Linked DNA regions of Homo sapiens. The main gene of each other region encodes a partner of the protein of the gene in region 3 in a complex. Each region holds a gene or a part of one and is shown on either strand. Other genes may lie near its edges.

Region 1 (7,021 bases), on a different chromosome or scaffold from region 3:
CGGCCTCCTTCTCCCTTTCCTCCTGCCTTTTGCGGGCCTGTTCCTCTGCCTGTGCAATCTCAGCTGCAATTTTCTCCATATCCACTTCTACTTTCAGACCGCACAACTAATCAGAAAAAAACAGAACTCCGTAATGTTTTTTCCTTATAATTTTTGAGCCAGATATATTCTTTCAAAAGTTGGTTTTCTTGCCTATAAACTATATATATATATCTATACACCTGTATGTGTGTGTGTGTGTGCCAAAAAAATGTGGTTCTAGGTCTTCTCTGAAACTCTTGGGTCTACAAGAAAAAACAGCAGCTCTAGCAGTTGTATAATATAGGATATTCCAGAGCAGCTGGTGAGGCAAAATAGTGAAAGTTCTGGGGTATACATAAGGCTTCCGTTTTACATTTTGGGCTACCAACTAGATTTCCTTGTCTGAATGCAAAGTGCAAATTATAAATTACATTTAATGACGACATTTGATGAATAAATCACAATAAAATGAAAGTAATTAATGACTGTATGGGAGTTTAACATATCAGAGGGCTCTAGCATTTACAGGCCTAGAAGATATGTGTATACTCTATGATATTTCAAATTTATTGCAATTTTGCCAGAGAATGGGAACAATCTTATAAAAAAAGGATCCTACAGGTTTATAATAAAGTTAGCCCTGTTTCAAAGTGAACAACATTCAATAAAAACACTATTTTGGAAAAAAGAATGAGGAAAAATAAAGTAACAGGTATAGTGATAAAAGTATAGTTAACATATTAAACAGATACCCTTTTAAGTTCATTGTTAAATGAATCTGTGCTTTCCAGGAATTTCCTCTTCTTCTCCTGGTGTCGTTCCTCTATTTGAAGAAGTTCAGCTTCTAGTTTTCGCTGCAAGACAGGATCAGGCTTCATAATTGTGTCTCATTTTTTAATGGTCCATACTTTCAAACAGTGTACCAAATAATGTTTTGAACTTTAGATCATTTATCACATGAGTCTAGCTAAGATTTAAAAAATACAAAATGCAGCACAAAGAAATGATTATGATCAATAGGTAAATGTTAAAGAATACTGTTTCAGGCCTGAGCAATTCCTTGGGAAAAAATATTTAGCATAGCAGTAAAGATTGATAGGATGCCTCAAAATTCTTAAGTTCACACGTATTTCTTAACGAATATACTTTCCATTACAAGGTTCTATATTATAGTTTTTAATGACAAACTTATTAAACATCTGGGAAAGGTCCACTTCCTTAAACCTCTTCTCCAAATCAGGAACAGGTTAGATTGACATATTTAACAGGTAGATTTAGGCATGGTGTAGGAATCATATCACCTGGGATTTGTGGTATAGGCACATCTTATTGAAATGAATGTTTTATGACTTTACCTGATGAACCATTAAGGACTGGACCTGCCGTTTGAGGACCTGCATTCTAGCTGTTGTGACAACTGACCGAACGTCTGGCACCACACTCTCACTAAGAATTTCACTGATGAGGCGGTGGTTTCTCTGGAAACGGGCGGTGGCTGTATGCTTCATTGAAAAGCCATCATCATAATCTGGAGTGAACAAATTGTTCTGGAAATCAGGTCACCAGTAACCATAAAAAGGAGTGTAACAATGTTAACACTTAATTACCAACGAACTATGGCCCTCACTGGCCTAACAAGTGGACCTGCCCAGCGTCATGGGAGCACTGGGGCAGTTACTTGATAAAAACCATACAGAGGACGTAATGTGTTCATTGGCCAAGGTAGTAATTTATCTCACAGTCTTTAAGTGATAATGTTGTGTCTGAGAAGGATTTGGCTAAAACATAAACGAGATACAACATGTCTCTTCTGGCTTCGGAATCAATGTGAAGGCTGTATGTGATGGCAGTAATTGAAATTCTGCCCAATGTTTCACTCTCTTGGTAGTAACTTAAGGCATTTAACAACTAATGAACAACATATGAACTGGGCAGTGACTTTGTCACTTGTAGCACTTTAAAAATGAATGAAAATGCCCATTTGTAAAATTATGACAGCAGAGAATACATCACCTCTAACAATATTCAGTTTCCCAGGCCCTCAAGTAATTTTATAGAAGAAAAATAAATGTCTGATTCCAAATTTAATTTTTGTCAGTTTACACTTAGCCAGCTGTTGTCAGTGTGTAATGGTATGACCCAAGTTCATACAGTATGGGTCTGGTTTATATGCTTCTGTTTCGTTTTGAGACAGAATCTCCCTCTTGTTACCCAGGCTGGAGTACAGTGGCCCAGTCTCAGCTCACTGCAACCTCCACCTGCCAGGTTCAAGTGATTCTTGTGCCTCGGCCTCCCAAGTAGCAGGAATTACAGGCGCATGACACCACGCCCGGCCAATTTTTGTATTTTTAGTAGAGATGGGATTTCACCATGTTGGCTAGGGTGGTCTTGAACTCCTGACCCCATGTGATCTGCCCATCCTGGCCTCCCAAAGCGCTGGGATTACAGGTGTGAGCCACTGCACACACACTACAGGCTTATTTTTAATAGCTATCTAGTGTTTCCTTAATCTCAGTCTTTGCTCTATCACCTTCATAGTTTTTCATATATCTACTAACAGCCTGTACTATCGTTTACTTAATATTTTTCTTTAAACTAACTCACTTAAAAAAAAAAAGAGCTTTCTCTTTAGTAATACATATTAAAACAAACGCTCCTCTCTGAACCACTTAATCACCTCAGTGACCCACCAGACAGGGAGGAACCACACTTAAGAAAACCTTGTTACAGGGGAAACCCTGTTACAGAGGCCTATGTTGCGCTGCTATGTCAGTTTAGCACCTCCCTTATTGTCTGGCACTTAAGTAGTTCCTAAAATTCTCATTATTATAAATACTACAGCTAAAAACTGTTGTTTTTGTAAAAAGTTAAAAAAATTACTTTTGTTTCCTTTTGAGTAATTTCTTTAGGAAATAAACTTCTGAAATTAAAACTACTGGGTAAGATACAGTTTTTTTAAAACTCTGTAACCTTTCTACTTTTTAAGAGTTTTTCACCTTTAGGGTTATATATGGTACATCTGTGCTACATCTGTCTAAGTTATCTGTTTTTGTTGTTAGCTTTTGTTTTCTTCTTTCATTTATATGGCCCCAGTGTTGACCACAGATGGGGACATAAGGTCTAAGCAATTTGGGCTTGTTCTTCTTTGCATGTTAGTCGTCTGCTTCCTTTTTTGGGGGAATGGCTTCTCTGGTTATGATCTAATTGAACAGCTATTTATCCTATGATGAAGAGGCTCTCACTGAATAAAAGCCTTCATTGTCTTGTGTGGATAATTGCACATGCCCTCTTTTTTTTTTCTTTTTTTTGAGACTGGTTATTGCCCTGTCATCCAGGATGGAGGACAGTGGCATGATCATAGCTCACTGCAGCCTTGAACTCCTGGGCTCAACTGATCCTCCTACCTCAGCCTCAGCTGGAGTAGCTGGGACTACAGGCACAAGCCGCCATGCCCAGCTAATTTTTAAGTATCCTGTAGAGATAAGGTCTTGCTGTGTTGCCCAGGCTGGTCTCAAACTCTTGGCCACAAACGATCCTCCTGCTTCAGTTTCCCAAAGTATTGGGATTACAGGCGTGAGCCATGGCGCCTGGCAATGTCTATCTTTTGATAGTCCTCTGTTAAAGAAGTCAGTAGCTGTTGTACTTCATGCAGATGCCACCTTTCTGTTATGTACATTTGACATACATTTCCACCTCCCAAGTATTCCTCTTTCTAATCATTTTCGTACTGGTATGCTAAAGACATTCTCATATTGGCATCTTAATTGCTACCTGAATTTACTAGCAACTTTAAGACCCAATCTGAAAGTTAAAAACATCATAGGCCCAAGTTTCAGACTGTTTCTGAGTGAATCTCTTTAGTCCTTCTCAGTGTTCATGGTGTTAATGAAAGCTTTAGTTATTTTCTACTTACGTTGCTAGCCTTTGTTTCCTCTTGTACTGACCTCCATCCTCCCAATATCTGTAGACTGGATTGTCTTCTGATTTTTAGTTCTGTATGTTTCTCTTGCATTAATCACCCCATTTGAGTAATTAAAGTGTGAGGATGCTAGTGTGTCTTTAGCACTGCTGATTCTGCTTAACATTCAATACTGTTTCTATTCCATATTCTATTCTCTATAGTATTACATTCCACTGTCTGTATTTATGAGAACATTTGACAATATTCCAGTACATTATTTTTAAAAATGACTTCTGTTTTTCCCCACTTTTATCAACTTATTCTTGTCTTCAGGTACTATTATTGCTTCCTCCCTCATTGATATTGTCTTTAAAGTTCTTATAGCCTTCCTCTTTGTTACTGCTACTTTAAGATGGGATCTTAAATCATTTTCCTGATGTTCTTGTCGCTTGCAGCTAAAGCTTCTAACCTTTTGCACATCATAGCAGTATACAGAGAAACTATTAATGTTTATACAGCACACTAGATATGTGGTTGAGTGTGTTCACACTGCAGGTGGCTATCTCTGGGTCTCCTCGCAGCTTCAGACCCTGCCTGGCTGCACAAGACCAGAACAATCAGAACACCTGCTAACTACTCATACAGAATGGCAATTAGGAAGCTCTGCCATTCGTGTGCATGTATACAATTTGTATGGGTATACCCTCATGTACACCCATACAAATAGTAGCATGAGCTATATTTATACATTCTTATTGGATTTCTGAATTAAATGGAAAGGAAACTTCATGTTTCCACATACTCATTAGCTTCTCCCTTAAGAGCCTTTAATTCAGCGAATTTAGTGAACCAATAAGAAAACAAGATATAATTAGAATGCATTTAGCTTTTTAAAAGCAGATGAGGCAAAATCCTGATTGTGATTTAAAAACCTTTCGTGCATTTTGAGTACAAAGATTTTGATAAACAATCAATAATTTTTGCTATTTTCTGCACTGAAAAGGATATTTCTTTTTCTTGTGGGAAATTCACATACAAATCTTACTCAATATAACCAAAATACTAAGACGATACTTAAATTATACTTTCTTTTCCATTTAGGATAAGAAATAAAAACTTATACTTAAGAGATTTCTCATATCTTAACTCACAGAGAAAGCATAAACAAAACCCCACTTTTTTTCTTTTACCATCTGGATCTTCAGCAGGCTGAATGCTCATGTACGGTTCTCCTTTCTCCATGCGAGATTGTCTCTGTCGACTTTCTTCCTCTAAAGCAGCTTCTGCACGACTTTTTGCATTTATGTAAGCAAGGTACGCGGGGGAATTATGATAGGCCTTCATAGATTCATTGTACTCTATCTGAAATTCAAATGTTTTTTGGTTTTATAATTAACATTTTGCAGGTTATAATGCAGACCTATGTTATCTCACTTGAATATCAAAAGATATGATGTAAACAGGGTGTTGGGATAATTATCTCCTTTTTACAGGCAAGAAATCTGAGGCCTTGAGAAACTGACTTGACTCAGGTAGACAGAGCCTCAGTACTGCATCAGTGTTCTGACCAAATCTTATGTTACTTTTATAAATAGTAAGCCAATGTTTTATGTACTTTACACATTATCTATCCCACTGTGAGCCCCTACCCTACCTTTTCTGCTTCGTATTCGTTTAAATATTCTTGTTTTTCTTCATCAGTGAGATCTCGCCACATGCCACCAATAATCTTGCCAATCTCCCACAACTTTAGGTCAGGGTTGGAAGCCTTTACTTGGTCCCAGACCTTAAAAAGAAAACAGATGAAATGTTAATACTGATGTCTAAACGTATAGACCTTTAAAAATAGTTTTTAATGTGGAAACTTTTCAACATACAAAGCAGAGAAAACAGTATCAAATTTCTAGGTACTCATCAGCCTACTTCAAAAATTATCAAGAACTGGCCAATCTCAAGTTATCTTTGCCCTACTGGATTACTTTAAGATAGATCTCAGACATCACGTCACTCACTTATAAATACTTCAATTTGATAAGCAAGAATATCTCCAATCACTACAGACACTTAGGATGAGTTACTTCAATAACATAGTCTACGTCTCTAAAAGTTCATGTGAATTTAGAAGAAAAGTGCTTAATTTGCATAACACGGTACATCATATTATCAAATACAAATATAATAGTCAAGATCAAAAGGTTTAACATTTCTAGATAGTGGTTATAATGCTCTGCCTTTTAATAAAGATATTGGCTACTTTTTTTATTTTAAGAGTAATGTAGGCTCATCACCAAAAAAAAAAAAAAAAAAAGGAAAACTTGAGGAAAAGAAAATAAAAACTACCATAAGCTTACTGCTTAGAGATAATTATTGTCTTCTGTGTTTTCCCCCTTCAAACTAACATGTGGTTGCTATTATTTTTATAAAAATGAGATATTAATTCATGTAGTCTTGCAGTCCTCCTTCACTTAACATTTTCCTCACGTCATTAAATATTCTCCAAAAGAAATGACTTTAATGGCTATAGAACATTCTATCTTAAGGATTTTAACAGTTTATTTAATCACGCTCCTCTTGTTGGATTTTAGTTCTGGAATTTTGAAATCAGAACTAATTGCTTTAAAAACCGTATTTTTTTGGACCTTTCCTCTGAATATGCACAGAAAAGCTGGCTAAGCCGATCTAAAGTTGGATGTTAAGCAAAGAAGCAGCAAAGACAGTGTCCTCACTCCTTACCAGGTCCTAAGCACCTACCTTTCTGCTGTACCTCATGTAGGGCATCAGCGGCTTATCTGGTGGCTTTGGGGGTTTTGGAATCGTGATACCAGAGGATGCCTACGAAAGAGTTAAATACATTCATTATTCAACTGTAAGGAGTTCACTGGCAAACTGAAAAGAGAGTCCCTTAAAAAATTCTAATGCGCCTTTCTTCTATTCGTCCAAATATTTTCTTCACTGAAAATAGCTATCACTGCAAATTCAGAAATGTTCAAAAGAAAATGACTTTAAGCACATAATTTTTAAATGTTTTACTTAGCAGTTTATTGCCAATGCTTTGACAACCTGGCTGCAAGAACAAATAAAATATTACACAGTAACCCA
Region 2 (7,784 bases), on a different chromosome or scaffold from region 3:
CTCAGGCACCCACAGAAAAAAATACAGGCAGATGGCCGGGCATGGTGACTCAAGCCTGTAATCCCAGCACTCTGGGAGGCCAAGGCAGGTGGATCACCTGAGGTCAGGAGTTCGAGACCAGCCTGGCCAACATGGTGAAACCCTGTCTCTACTAAAAATACAAAAAAATTAGCCGGGCATGTCAGTGTGCATCTGTAATCCCAGCTACTCAGGAGGCTGAGACAGGAGAATCGCTTGAACCCACTAGGCGGAGGTTGCAGTGAGCTGAGATTGCGCCACTGTACTCCAGCCTGGGTGACAGAGCCAGACTCCATCTCAAAAAAAAAAAAAATACAGGCAGACTGATCCATCCCAGTTCCCAGGGGAAGGGACACAGTCAGCAACTCCATACACCCACACACACCTAACAGATATCACTATGCCCTCCAATACCACTGGGACCCTTGGTGGGGCATGGTGGTTCACGCCTATAATCCCTGCACTTTGGAGGGCTGAGACAGGAGGATCCCTTGAGCTCAGGAGTTCAAGACCAGACTGGGCAACATAGTAACACCCTGCCTCTATTTAAAAAACAACAGGCCAGGCGCGGTGGCTCACACCTGTAATCCCAGCACTTTGGGAGGCCGAGGTGGCCAGATCACCTGAGGTCAGGAGTTCCAGACCAGCCTGACCAACATGGTGAAACCCCGTTTCTACTAAAAATACAAAATCAGCCGGGCATGGTGGCGCATGCCTGTAATCCCAGCTACTCGGAAGGCTGAGGCAGAATCGCTTGAACCTGCTAGGCGGAAGTTGCGGGTTCAAGGTTCAACTCCCCGCTAGGTGGAGGTTGGGGGATCACGCCATTGCACGCCAGCCTGGGTGAAACTCTGTCTCAAAAATAAATAAATAAATAAATAAATAAATAAATAACAACAACTGGGCACCTGGGCCCATGTAGGAGGAGATGCAGTCGCCACTCAGTGACTCAGAGAAACTGTGGAATCTCTGGGAAACACCCGGGACGCACATGGGCAGACAGACACACAGCCAGCCAGGCAGACACTTGCTAGAAGGCGATAAAGGTGATGGACGAGTGCTAGGACACACAGCAGGCGCTGGGACACCGATGGGGGCCCCAGCGGCTGCACCCACCGATCTTGTACTCGCAGGGCCTGAGTCTGGGGTCCTCCAGGATGTTGAGTCTCCGTTTCTTCCTCCAACAGCGGGCGGGGTACGTGTAAATCTGTCCCGGGGCCAAACCTGGAGAGAGAGGGGGGTGAGAGGGCGGCGGCGGTGGGGCGGCCTGGCCCCGCCCCGCCCTGCGCCAGCCCTCCCGGCGGTACCCGGCCCGCGGTGGGTCTTCTCCATCCAGATGTAGCAGTTGTTCTGGGCCACGCCGGTCTGCGAGTCGAGGAAGGGCAGTCGCAGGCTGCGCTCGGCGCACAGGCGCGCGTTGTAACTGCGGCAGTGCTCGATGGCCTCGCGGTAGAAGTCCTCGCCTAGGCTAGAGGGGCGGCGAACGGGCGGGCGGCTGTCAGCAAGGGCAGGCGCACAGGGTCGCCCAGCACCCCTTCCCCGGCTGCCGGGCCGCCCAGGCTCGGGAGGGGTGGGCCGACCCCTCCAGCCTCACCTCTCCCCTCCTCCCACTCCGGGACCCAGGCTGGGGGAAGGGGACAGGGCCCAGGGGCCCCCAAACTGGGACTCAAACAGGCCCCCAGCTCATGAGTAGAAACACGATACAGAAACAAACAAAAACACACCGGGACGTATCCCTACCTGAACACATGCAGACACACAACACAAATCACACACAGTCACACGGGATTCACACACAAAGAGAGACAAATCCCAATACTCACAAAGGAGAAACAGACAAACCTCACACACGTGCACACATAAATATCTACTGAAAAAGACAAATATCCCAAGTTCCATAGTGTGGAGACAAATCACACAAATAACCATGCACAAAGACACATCACATATCCACAGACACACACCAGAAACACATCACCCACACAAAGACACACAACATGGAAACATCACACCACACACACATACACCCCCTCATGCATCCAAAGACACAAGCATGTCAAAAGACAGGAACTACAGAAACCACTTGCGCCCCTAGGCACTTACCCATGTATCCAAAGACACAACACAAACCACACACACAATATCCAGACACACAACACAAAGAAATCACACAGATTCACACAGGTACACACACACATTTACAAAGATGCACGATGCGCAACCAGTATCTAAAATATCACACATCCACACAGACACACACACATATAAAACACAGAAACAGCCAAATCCACCCATAGTCACACAAAAATTTACACACAAATACACGCAGCCCTACATACCCAAAAACACAGAACACAAGACAAATGACATATAGTTCCAAAGGACACGGACACACACTGGGAGACCCAAATATCCAAAGATATCTAGTGCAGAATAAAAGGAAACAGACACATGTCCACACACCTATCCCCCAAAAATTCTTAAAAAAACCAGAACACAAATAAGTGATACACACACACACTCCACATCCCAAGACAAAGGTAGTGTGGACTTCACTCCAGTTGCCAAGGCCCCCGCACCCCCGGGTCATTTCAGTCTCTCCCAGACCCGAGGGTTGCAGGGAAGGGATGATGTCTCCCTTCCCCAAAAAGAATCTGGAGGCCCCCCACGCCCTCCACCCCGCCAGGGAGCGGTGCATCCGACACCATTCTTGTCAGAGACCCACAGTCACACACTCTCGCACCCCCGCGCAGCCCCGCACTCGGTGACAGCCCCCCAGACACCCCTTCGGCCCCACCCCCGGTCGCCACACACACACAGGCCCGCGTAGACCCGCCCGCGCTTCCTCTCCGCCTCCCGCCGGCCCGCACCACCTCAGGGGGCCAGGGATGACAGTGGCCATCTTGCTCCCCGGGTCCTGCCCCCAGCAGGTCCCCGCCGGGTCGGTCCTCCCAGCGGTCGGGCGGGCGCTGAGGCCGCCCATCCATTCATTCCCGGGGGGCGGGAGCACGAGGGCCACGGCCAATCGCGGCGACGGGGCGGGCCCGCCCGGGCCATGCTGGGAGTGGTAGTCCCAGGCCAGGGGGCCCCCGGGACCCCGCGGGGACGGGACGGCGCGGAGGAGGGGCCCGGGGCACGCACCGTCACTCACCCGCCCTCACTCGTCCACATATCCTGCTCTCGCGTGCACACAACCACATGCACACCTGGACTCGCACACGCCCACGCATGGCAGTTTACACACACATTCACGCGGATACTCACAGCCTCCCACACACTCCTACTCACACACCTTCGCACGGACTCACACAGCCACACGCACACACACTGCAATACTAAGAGACGCAGAGACACCTCCCAGGTGCCCACACAGACTTCTCACCAACATGCTTCCAGCAGACACCCCCTCACCGCCCCCCACCCAAGTCCCTCCTGGCTCCAGAGACCCCACCCGGGGCTGTCTCTCCCAGCAGCCACGCTCACGGTCACCCCGCCCTGCTCAACGCCTTCTGCAGGCCTGACAGCAGCAGTGCAGGTTAGAAACAGTAGTCACACCTCCAGGGTTCAAATCCTAGCTCTGCCACTTGGTGGCCATGTGACCTTGGCAAATGACTTAACCTTTCTGGGCCTCAGTTTCCTCATCTGTAAAAAGAGGATGATGCCTCACTGGAGTGTTGTGAGGATTAAATGAGTAAATATAGGTAAAGCATTTTAAGAGGTGACTGGCAGGCCAGGCGCAGTGGCTCACACCTGTAATCCCGGCACTTTGGGAGGCCCAGGCAGGTGGATCACCTGAGGATGGGAGTTCGAGACCAGCCTGGCCAACATGGTAGTAGTCTCTACTAAAAATACAAAATTAGCCGGGCATGGTGGCGCATGCTTATACTCCCCCACTCAGGAGGCTGAGGCAGGAGAATCACTTGAACTCAGGAGGTGGAGGTTGCAGTGAGCTGAGATCGTGCCATTGCACTCCAGCCTGGGCAACAAGAGTGAGACTCCCTCTCAAAAATAAATAAATAAATAATAAGAAAGAAAGAATAATGCGGCCAGGTGCGATGGCTCCAGTCTGCAATCCCAGTACTTCGGGAGGCCTAGATGAGAGCACTGCTTGAGCCCAGGAGTTTGAGACCAACCTGGGCAACATATCCAGACCCCTGTGTCTACAAAAAAAAATTAAAATTAGCTGGGCATGATGGCGCAGCAGTGTAGTCCCAGCTACTTGCAAGGCTAAAGTGGGAGGATAGCTTGAACCTGGGAGGCTGAGGCTGCAGTGAGCTGTGGTCTCACCACTGCACTCCAGCCTGGGTGGCAGAGCGAGACTCTGTCTCTAAAAGCAAACAAACAAACAAACAAACAAACAAAAAACTAAGTAAGCAGGGCGCCGTGACTCATGCCTGTAATCCCAGCAATCTGGGAGGCTGAGATGAGAGGACCGCTTGAGCTCAGGAGAACAGCCTGGGCAACATAGCGAGACCTGGTCTCTACTAAAAAAAAAATAAATAGCTGGGCATGGTGGCACATGCCTATGGTCCCAGCTACTCAGGAGGCTGAGTCAGGAGGATTGGTTGAACCCAGGAGATCGAAGCTGCAGTGAGCTATGATCACACCACTACACTCCAGCCTGGACAACTGAGCAAGACCCTGTCTCCAAAAAAAAAAAAAAAAATAGATGCTCAGTAGATATTTGTTGAATGAGTAAATGCACCCATCATGTGCTGGGCACAGTTCACCCCGGGATGCTTTTATTATCTGCATTTTCCAGGTGAGGAATCTGAGGCACAGGAAGGTAACCTCACATGCCCGCATGCCCTGGCGGCTCTTTGAAGGTAAGACTGAAGGAAGGAGGCAGGCACCCCTGACGGCCCTCCCCAAGTAGTCCTGACCTCCTTCTCTCTCCCACTGTCACCCACACTGACTCCACCCGAAGAGATCCCCAGGGAGTGAGCAGACCCACTGAGTCACAAACTGACCCAGTCTCTCTGCAACACCACCACCCCGTCCCCCCTCCCGTCTCACCCCTCCTCCCCCTTTCCCCTTCCCACCCCTTCTCCCCCTTTCCCCTTCCCCTCTTCCACCCGGACCCCTGTAGAGCCAGCATTCAAATTTGGGCGGCTGCTGTAATTAACACGCCCACAAACGCCCTCATCCACCAGGGGGCGCCCCAGCCGACAGAAGTGGCCCGCTAGCCTTCACCATTTTTGTCACTTGAAATCCCCCCAAGAGAGAGATCCAGTCAAGGCCTCCTACACTCACGGTCACTTCTACACACACACACACACACACACACACACACACACACTCCTCTAGTCTTAGACCCTTTCCACAAACTCGCCCATCTAAGCCAGGTAAGGTCTTGGCCGGCCCCTCTCCTGGAACAGGAGGTAGGTCTCTGATTCACATATGGCCTGGAGTGGTGACAAGGGGATTAAGTGAGGGGCACTGACACCCCTACGATCACTCTGGCCTCCAGGGCCCTATAGTGGCCACCTCACACCTTACCCACGGTGAGCTGTGACCCCACCTTCCTCTCTCACCTCCCATTAGCTCACAGGTCCCGTAACACACCCTCTTACACTTGATTCCCACACCGCTAGCCTCAGACACGCAGACTCACTCCTGCCCCACCCCAAACTCTCATGTCGATTTGATTAAGAGAAGCCCGAGTGTAGACACTGAGTGCAGACCTTCCTAACAGTCCTCCTCTACCAGCAGAATTTCTATTTTTCTTTCTTTTCTTTTCTTCTTTTATTTCTCTTCCTTCCTTCCTTCCTTCCTTCCTTCCTTCCTTCCTTCCTTTCTTTCTTTCTTTCTTTTCTTCTCTTTCTTTCCTCTTTCTCTTTTTCTCTTTTTTTTTTTTGGACAGCGTCTCACTCGATGGCCCAGGCTGGAGTGCCATGGCATGAACACAGCTCGCTGCAGCCTCCACCTCCCAGGCTCAAGCGATCCTCCCACCTCAAACCCCCAAGTAGCTGGGACTACAGGCCTGTGCCACCGCACCCGGCTAATTTTTGTATTTTTGTAAAAACAGGGTGTCCCTGTGTTGGCCAGGCTAGTCTCAAACTCCTAAGCTCAAGTGATCTGCCCACCCTGCCCTCCCAAAGTGCTGAGATTACAGGCATAAGCCACCATGCCCGGCCCACCAGCAGGATATCTACCCACAGACGCAGGCTGACACTTGCAGCGGGCTCTCCTTTCTTTCCTTCTGCCCTAACCACCTGCACACACCACTCCCACATACTCTCCTACACACTTGAACTCCCAGTCCTCTCCCTGGCCCAAACAATCCTCCTGCCCCATCCCCCAATGCCCTGTGTGGGAGCTGGCCCACAGTAGAAATCAATTTCATAAATCAATATTGATACTACTAATAATAATCACTACATTTGGTCAGTGTCAGTCTCTGTGCTAACTGCTTTACAAAGATGGCCTTAGCCCCACGACAGTCCCATCGGGTGGTAAGGGCTGTTAGAAGCCCCCATACACAGATGGCAAAACTGAGGCTCACGGCAGGGAACATTCGTGGCTCAAGCTGGTTTTGGAACTCAGGCAGTCGGAACTTCCGAGGGCGGCACCCTGCAGCTCCTTCTCCCCAGGGGATTTGACTCACATTCTTTCAGGAGCCAGGGAGTCCCCACCTTCACCCCCACAGAGACCTTTTGGAAGGGAAGGGCACAGAGGGGTAGGGCCCTCCCAGTCCAGGCTTACTGTAGCTGGGCCCCTGCTCACGGCTGTAGCACACCTCCTCCCAGGGGTCTGGGCCAGGGTCAGGGTGAGGGGCCCCATCGCCTGTAGATCCACCAACCTGCACAAGAGCCCCGTTCCCAGCCATTTTGCGGATGTCCCCTCACAGGAGAGACAGCTGTCTGTGTGTGCCACTTAGGGTGAGAGGGCAGCAGAGGGGTGTCACCATCATACACCACCTCACACGGACCCGAGCCCCACACACCCGCTCCCGGCACCCTGCTCACGGCGAAGCCACACGTGTAGGCGCTTGCCTCTAAGTCCCTGCCCCCCTTCCTCTCCCAACTCCCACCCTCCACCTCCCACCCCCATTCCCGCCAGAAACCAGAAGCAACTGGCGGCCTCTGGTCCAGCCAGCAGGCGCATCCCTTCTCGTGGGTGGGGTAGGGGGGCGCTCCCTCTCTCCCTCTCTCCCCCCACCCCCCACCCCCGCCCCCAGCCCTCGATGTTCAAGGTCAAGGCAGCCAGCGCACGGGGTTGGGGGAAGGGTGGGGGAGGTCGCCCCGGCCCCTTTGTGCGACGCCGCGGGCGCTCGCCCTCCGCCTCCTCCACCAGGCCCGGGAGGAGGGGGAGGGGAGCGCCTCGCTCGCCTGCGGGGAGGGAGGGCGGGAGCGGCCGAGTGCCTGTCACTTGGAGCCCGCTGTCACCGCCTGGGAACGGGGGGTGGGGAGCGCTGGGACGTGGAGTCCGGGATCCCGAAGAGGAAGCAAGAGCGAGATGGAGAGGGGGAAGGGGAGGTGTGGAGAGCGCGAGGGATGGCAAGGAGAGGAGAGGGTCAGGAGGGGCCAGGCTCGGACCCAGGCTTCCGGATTCCCAGCCACCGGGCCCGGGAAGAGGCGAACGCTCGGAGGACCGCGGCCAGGGAGAAAGGGAGGGAATCCCCGGAGACCGAGGGCGCTCCCGGCACCCCCTCCTGGGCAGCCGGTCCCCAAAGGGATCAGAGATGCTCCCGTTTGATGTGTATGCGCGGGGAGAGGGAGGGATGCCGCGGTCCAGACTGACGGCGGGTTCGGGGCTTCCAGTTC
Region 3 (7,021 bases):
CTCTTCTTCTAAACCCAAACTGAATTGTCTTGAAGCAAATTCCAGACATAATATCCTTTCATTCATAAATATTTCAAAAAGTACTACTAAAGGCAAGGAATCAAATGGGCTTTTAACAAATAATGTCTTATATTTTAAAAAGTCTTTCTTTTTGGCATTACAAACTTTGTGGTTAACAGGAAAGATCAAATTTGGGGGATTTTTTTTTTTTTTTTTTTTTTTTTTTTTTTTGGCCACAGATCTGCACTGAGTAATGGGCCCAGGTGACTGGAGACAAGTCACTTAGCACCTGAAGTCTGGTACTGCTGAGCAATAAAATAGATACAGTAATTCCCACCTCCACCTCCCATTAAGCAACATGATGAGGTTAAACAGAATAAAACTCTGATGTACTCTAAGCCATTTTGAGAGAAATCTCTTTGTGTATCCCAATAAAAGGACACTCCAAATTATTTTTATCATGTAATGCCACGATAAAAGGAGCAAGCTGCAAAATCTTTAAGAGGCAACTCCATTGCAAAAACAAAAACAAAAACTTGGGATCTTTTGTCCAGGGGTGTCACTCTAGCATCTGCCTGAGTGACAGCAGCTTCATCACTCAGTCTAGCTGCCGTCTGCCCTGTGGATGAGCAAGAGCCTCAAATGCTATTATAACTCTAATTGCTTTCGGTTATGGTTGAACTCACTTGAAGAAAGAGTGATAAAAAACTTCAGTTTCTCTATTATCTGTATATTCCATCACTTAATTGCAAAAATTAATGATTTGCAAATGCCTAATCATTAGTGTCAAACCAATCTGTTACTGAAGTTCTAATATAGTTTCACTTCAGTTGAGTCAGACAAATTTGACTGCTTAGTGATCAAATTACTACAAAAACGGTCTAGTCAGAAACCTCTCGGACAGTCCTCTCTCCCTGGTATGGAGAGGGAGGCAGGATAGGGTAGTAAGATGTAGTAGTACCTGCACACAGAGGCTTTTAAAACATGGTGTTTACTCTCTGGAATCCAAAAAATGAAAAAAATGCAAACTGTAATACCAGCCAGGAAGACAGTGTCACTTAGAATTTTCCAGGAACATAATTATGGTCTGAGACTAATGACCTTATCTTCATCTATGCAGGCATTACGTCCTAGATAGAATCTGCAGGTCTCCTATAATTATAACATCACACACACACACGCTTTTCTAAAATCCACAGTGTGCTCTGAGGTCCAATTCCAAAAATAAATGGTCAATAAAAACAAATACTCAGGCCAATGATATAAACCTATCTCTTCTGTGCTTATATGCCCATTAAAAAATAACAGTGCAAATGTAATAATCCATGAATAGCCTTTGACCATAACAAGGCTATCACAAAAAAGGCAACATTTCAAAATCAACTTAAAAATCACTTATTACACTGTTAGAGAATAATTTCTGCCATTAAAAAAGAAAGATAAGCACCAGAGGCTTCAAAACACAGACCTTCTTAGATTTGAAGACACGACTTAATGTGTTATTCATTCCAAAAAACGTGGTCATTCATCTCAAAGAGGCCATATTTTTAAAAGAACTGCATTTGCCATCCTTCCAGATCTGGTTATCAAACTCATGCAAAATACAGTACCTGCTTTTATGAGAGAAGCTGTAATGTGTACCGCGCAATGCCACCCCAGGACACAGAAATACTATACGCATCAGTCATCCCCCTAGATTTTTGGCATGCATTCTCCAGGAAAGAGAAAAAGTTTTTACTTCATCTCCCTAAGGTTCAAAGAAATTTACTAAAATTTTTGATAAGCAGTTTTCATTTTTTCCTTCTACTACCACCATATTTAATGGTCTCATTGCAGACGGACGTGGGTTGAGTAGTTTCCTGGGCTCCTGCAGGGAGTTCCTTACCATCAGTCGCCGCATTCTCTCCTTTTCAATCCGCTCTGTCTCCTTCTTCTGCTCTCTTTCAGTGTTGGCATGCCAAGTTGCCACTGCTTTGGAGAGCTTCTGGATCTTTCCGGCCACAGACCGATGATATTCCTTAAAATCTTTTGCATGTTGCAAAATACTGTTCAGGTATTCCTAGAAGATCCAAAAAGGGAAGAAAAGGATACTTAAAATCCAATGACCAGTGTCCTCTGAGCTATCAGTGTTGTCCAAGAAAACTCTCAGTGTGTGTTTAACAGCATAGGAAGACTAGAATCTGTTTGGGGATAGGTGCCCTGGTGTCTCTGCAGTTAAGGTGTGGGCCATGGGGCTGGTGGGAAAGATAGCCTCTTCGGGTTCCTTTTGTTGTAAGCTTTAGCAAGAGAAGCCTCCTTAGCCTTGAGGGTGTGGCCACATGAGAATGGAAAGATCGAAGACTGAAAGAGACCTACAAAATGGCAATGATAAAATGTAAAGCAAACCACTCATTCACTCCAAAATAAACCTGAGGAACATGAGTATTTCCAGCAAAAAGTATGTCACAAAAGTAATGTTTTTCTGCTCTAACTACCCTAGAGTATGACACAAAATAAGTTTATACAAAGTTAAAATTGCCATGCAGAATTTGTATCCACTTTTTAAATATATACTCTATTTACACTAAAATCCAACATTTTTTCAAAAGGAAACTAAGCTAAGCACTAAATTAAGCACAGGAAAACAAATACAATTTACAGGACTATGACAGGAAATCAAATCCTACATCAAAATATTTCCAAACCCCCAGAAAGGAATGTTTTTAATATTTGCCTCTGTGAAACATTCAACTAGGCCCTTCAGAGAAGCCAGGACACTATTATATTTGTTATGAAAATAACTTTTTGCTTTCTACTTTCCTTTTCCAAGTTCCTGCTCCCAGAATTTTGCTCTAGGAAATCCACCTATGCCCACCCATTCAAAAACTTCCCATGGGATTATGAACATGACACCTGTTATGGACTGAATGTTTGTGTCCTCCCAAAATTTATATATTGAAATGCTAACTCCCAATGTAATGGTATTAGGAGGTGGGGTCTTCGGGAGGTGATAAGGTCATGAGGGTAGAGCCCTTACGAATGGGATTAGTGCCCTTATAAAGGAAGCCCGGAGAGCTTTCTTGGCCTGCTTCCACCACGTAAGAAAACAAGGAGAAGTTAACAGTTTGCAACCCAGAAGAAGACCCTCACCAGAGCCCAGCCATGCTAGTACCCTGATCTCAGGCTTCCAGCCTCCAGAACGGTGAAAAATAAACTTCTGTTGCTCATCAACCACCCAGTTTGTGCTATTTTTTTATAGCAGCCCAGACAAACTAAGACAATACTAAACCTCATTGTGCTGCTAAGCAATTGTATGACCTTGGGCAGTCATTTATACGTCCTGGCTTAAGCGTCTTTGTCTATAAAATGATGTGGTTGGATTATGTACATGTCAAGGAACCGTTCTGTTCTGTGATGTCCCCACCACCCACAAGGGTCCATTTTTCAGTCATTCTGACCCCATTTGATGAATTCATTGGACAGCTCTGCCAAAGTGAGGGTGAGCAAAGCCCAGGGTCTAAGAACCTGGTGTTTCTGACGGCGTTTCCTCTCCTGCTCAATCTTCTGCTGCTTCTCCAGCTTCTCGGTCATGCGAGCTTCTCTCAGAGTCTGGCGCTTGCTCCGTTTGTATGCTTTGGAGTTGAGAGCCGTCTCCAGGGTCGTGTCCCTGCGCATGCAGGCCACCACCTCCTGTCTCAGCTGTCAAGAAGAGAGCAGTTAGACAGCCTTCCCTAACAGAAGCTAGGTTCCTGAACTCTGGCCTTCTCGCGGTTGCATTTAATGGAATAGAGTGGGGCGGGGAATCTCCACAAGCTTCTCAATCACCTTTGGTTTGTATTAAATGAAGGAACTAAAATCATGCCAAATGTATGCAATATTTTCAAGAACGGTACAAGATTTTTCTCCCCAAATAATTCAAATCAAAAGCAATTATAGTACTGTAACAGTAAAAGAAAGAAAAGATGTTGTCTTGCCTTTTAAATAACTTCATTTTCTCTAATTATTCTAATGATACCAATTAGCTAAATAAGCTTTTTAAATTTTCCGCTTTGTTTTAAGTGTCATGTTAACATTCTCTTTGTGTTTAAAGATTAATTTTAATGATGCTCCAAAAAAAGAATAAAAGAATTACTTTCACGTGTGGTAGCAGCAGGTACTCAAACAACGTTAATTCATAGTCTCATACAAAGGATGGGAAATATGAGTTTTGGCTTCTTCCCACTCCAATAATGATCTTCTTTCCAAGAGATCTACATTTTATATTATATCATGAACTTATTTCAGATCACAAATGTAATACTTTTATCTGTATTGCATGTTATGTGGTGGTAGGGGGTAGGGACTGGAGAATACACATTAAATAATCATTCCACTGCATCTGAAATATCATTAGTTACAGTTAATTTAATTAGGAAGCTTCATAAATAACAGATTTTTAAAATAATATCAAACAAAAATCAGAAATCAATAAGAGTCCGTCATGGCAACGCTAATTTGAACATAAACATATTCCGGAAAATATACTTGGTTAATATTCATTTAGTAAGATTTTATCCAGCACTTTATTAATTCATCTTATGAGGTCACCAATAAGAAAGAAGTAAACAGAACTCAGAGAATTTTCCCTTTTCTTTTTAAAATTTAAGCTGAAATCTACTCTCACAAACCAAGAGCCAAGTAGCACCTACCCACCACTAATGTCCATCTGTGAGATTATAGCCGGTAAGGCAAATATACACCCAAATTCCTACCACAATAGCAACTGGAGTGGCCTGTGATTTTAGTCACATCCTCCAACAAACCAAGTCAATACTTCCAAACTACTTTGACTCATTAATTATTCATTTCGCATGTTCCAGACTTTAACAAAACAAACCCATCTGACTAACAATGAAACGTTCCTTATCCCCTTTGGGTTAGTGAGGCAATCTGCGGACTAGCAAACTTGAACCTTTTCAGTCCACAAGGCAAAACTCGCCAAAGTGAAAATTAGCTCTAACTCATTCCACTTGTCTCTTACTAATTTAGAAATCAGAAAATAGGTCATTATACTGGCTTTTAATAACTGCTGTAAACTACAAGAGCAGATAATTTACTGATTAGTCAATACATGAGCCTGATGTGATCAAACACTCCAAACTTAGACATCGGTGAATAAATAAGCTATAAGACATTGCTTTATGTATTTCTATAAATGATGAACCACTAATTCAGTAGCGTGGCTACCATATTTGTTAAAATTATTTTCACAGTCGTGGCAAGCACTTTACATCTGTGCTTACAAAGAAGCTCCAATCCACTACCTTCTGGTTTTTCCTTGGAGTCATAAAAGCAAACATGAGCTACCCCACTTGTTCCCAAGGTTTTTCATCCATGGTAACAAAACGCCATAACTCTGACTTTGTAACCCATAGTACAGGAGGAAAAACTCTTTCCCATATACAGAAGAGAAAACCAGAATAATAAGCAGTTCATCTTCATCATTTTTAGTTGTAAGCTGTTGGTCTAAAAGATTCACTATTTTACTATATTTATATCTTTATATCTTTGTAACAATATTGAATAGACTAAAGGCAACACAGATAACACTTTAGGAACAATTACATTTATTTCCTACATCTCAGATTCACTGGGGAAAATGTATTACCTGACGCTGGAAATTGAGTAACCGAAGTGCTTTTAGTTCCACGGTTGCTTTGGTTCTTAAATCTGGTGGCAAAGAGCCAGGCAGATTTTCCAGTTCTTGTATCCTATGAGCTATGCGGGCCTGAAGTCTAAAGGAAACAATAAAATGGGGAAAAGGGGGCAGGGGAAAAACACATTACAATTTAATCTTAAATGATAAACAATGACATTAGGTTTAAGTCCGGGGCAAAACATATTCCAGATACTGATAGTTGATCTCTAACACCCAACTAGAATTTTTGATGTTAAGCAGAGAAAAGCTACCTTTGCATTAATGCAGACAGGTATATGTTACTTAACAATGTGGCTTCCTCCATAACCTCTATCTAACACTAGGGAAAGAAGGTTCACCCTGCATCTAGTGGGGAAGTCAAATGTCCTTGCTCACTCTTAGCAGAGAGAGAATATAAGAGACAGAACCAATTGACAAGCTTTCTAACTCCCAGCCAGACAGAATGCAGAGCTGAGAGCACAGACTTTTTTCTTCCGAACTTCTAGTTCTGTCCTAAGGCAACCAGACCATTTGTCTTCTTTGCCAAGATGCTGATGACGACAGCCATTAAAGCGCAGTGAGCAAGAACAGTTTTAGGTGCTGATGCCACAGAAATCAGCCAACCCTAAACATTCAGAAAGCGCTCTGCCAGCCACAACCACTTCCTCTGTGAGCAGAGCTTGCTTGAGAAAAGAAAATACAAATGAGGCTGTTTTAAAAAAATCAGGGCCAGCAGTAAATAGTACTCAAAAACCAAGAGTTTCTAGAAAAGGATGTTGAGGATTCTCGTTTTACACACCATCAAAAATATAACTGCATGTACTTCTTCATAATAAAGGCAGAGTAGAAAATAAAAGACCTCTGACTTTAGCCATTCACTTGGGATACTATTACTGTTAGATATATAAACTGCTGGTTTTAGAGTTCACCTGAATCCTATTCTGACAAAATAATTATATGCCATTTAAGACTATTTTTAGAACTACATCCCCTAAATCTGAGGCAAACTGTACTGAACTAGATTTCAACAAAGAAAGAATAATAATAAGTAATAAGTTAAAGTAGGCTAATATTAACAGCACTAAGTGCCTTTAATGTACAATGTTATTTAATTGTCTCTCTCTTACACACACAGACACGCCTCTGTAAGGTAAAAGTTATAATGGTCCCATTTTGCTGATGAGGAAAACTGAAGACACCTGGAGATACCACAGAGCTAGTAAAGAAGGGGGCCAAGATTGGAACCTCAATTTGCCTGATACCAAAACCACTGCAATAAAATGATAGATAATTAAGATACACTTTCCGAGAACCTTCCTGGACCTCAACTATAAAAGCTGAAAATTAAGAATTCTGTTAAAAATT

What was found. The genes of interacting proteins can lie anywhere in the genome.
Region 1: SMARCA2 (region 3) and SMARCE1 share a complex: the UniProt entries of both Homo sapiens proteins name them as parts of the BAF complex.
Region 2: SMARCA2 (region 3) and DPF1 share a complex: the UniProt entries of both Homo sapiens proteins name them as parts of the neuron-specific chromatin remodeling complex.

What each region holds. Positions count from the first base shown.
Region 1 is NC_000017.11:40,630,819-40,637,839, forward strand, and holds part of SMARCE1 (SWI/SNF-related matrix-associated actin-dependent regulator of chromatin subfamily E member 1), read right to left. Parts: intron 6,755-7,021; coding exon 6,674-6,754; intron 5,709-6,673; coding exon 5,577-5,708; intron 5,285-5,576; coding exon 5,113-5,284; intron 1,550-5,112; coding exon 1,377-1,549; intron 876-1,376; coding exon 774-875; intron 107-773; coding exon 1-106. UniProt on the Homo sapiens protein: Involved in transcriptional activation and repression of select genes by chromatin remodeling (alteration of DNA-nucleosome topology).
Region 2 is NC_000019.10:38,221,223-38,229,006, forward strand, and holds the start of DPF1 (zinc finger protein neuro-d4), read right to left. Parts: upstream 3,001-7,784; 5' UTR 2,921-3,000; coding exon 2,892-2,920; intron 2,684-2,891; exon of another isoform or gene 2,534-2,683; intron 1,487-2,533; coding exon 1,326-1,486; intron 1,243-1,325; coding exon 1,135-1,242; intron 1-1,134. UniProt on the Homo sapiens protein: May have an important role in developing neurons by participating in regulation of cell survival, possibly as a neurospecific transcription factor. Belongs to the neuron-specific chromatin remodeling complex (nBAF complex).
Region 3 is NC_000009.12:2,053,329-2,060,349, reverse strand, and holds part of SMARCA2 (SWI/SNF-related matrix-associated actin-dependent regulator of chromatin subfamily A member 2), read right to left. Parts: intron 5,754-7,021; coding exon 5,627-5,753; intron 3,679-5,626; coding exon 3,505-3,678; intron 2,060-3,504; coding exon 1,886-2,059; intron 1-1,885. UniProt on the Homo sapiens protein: ATPase involved in transcriptional activation and repression of select genes by chromatin remodeling (alteration of DNA-nucleosome topology).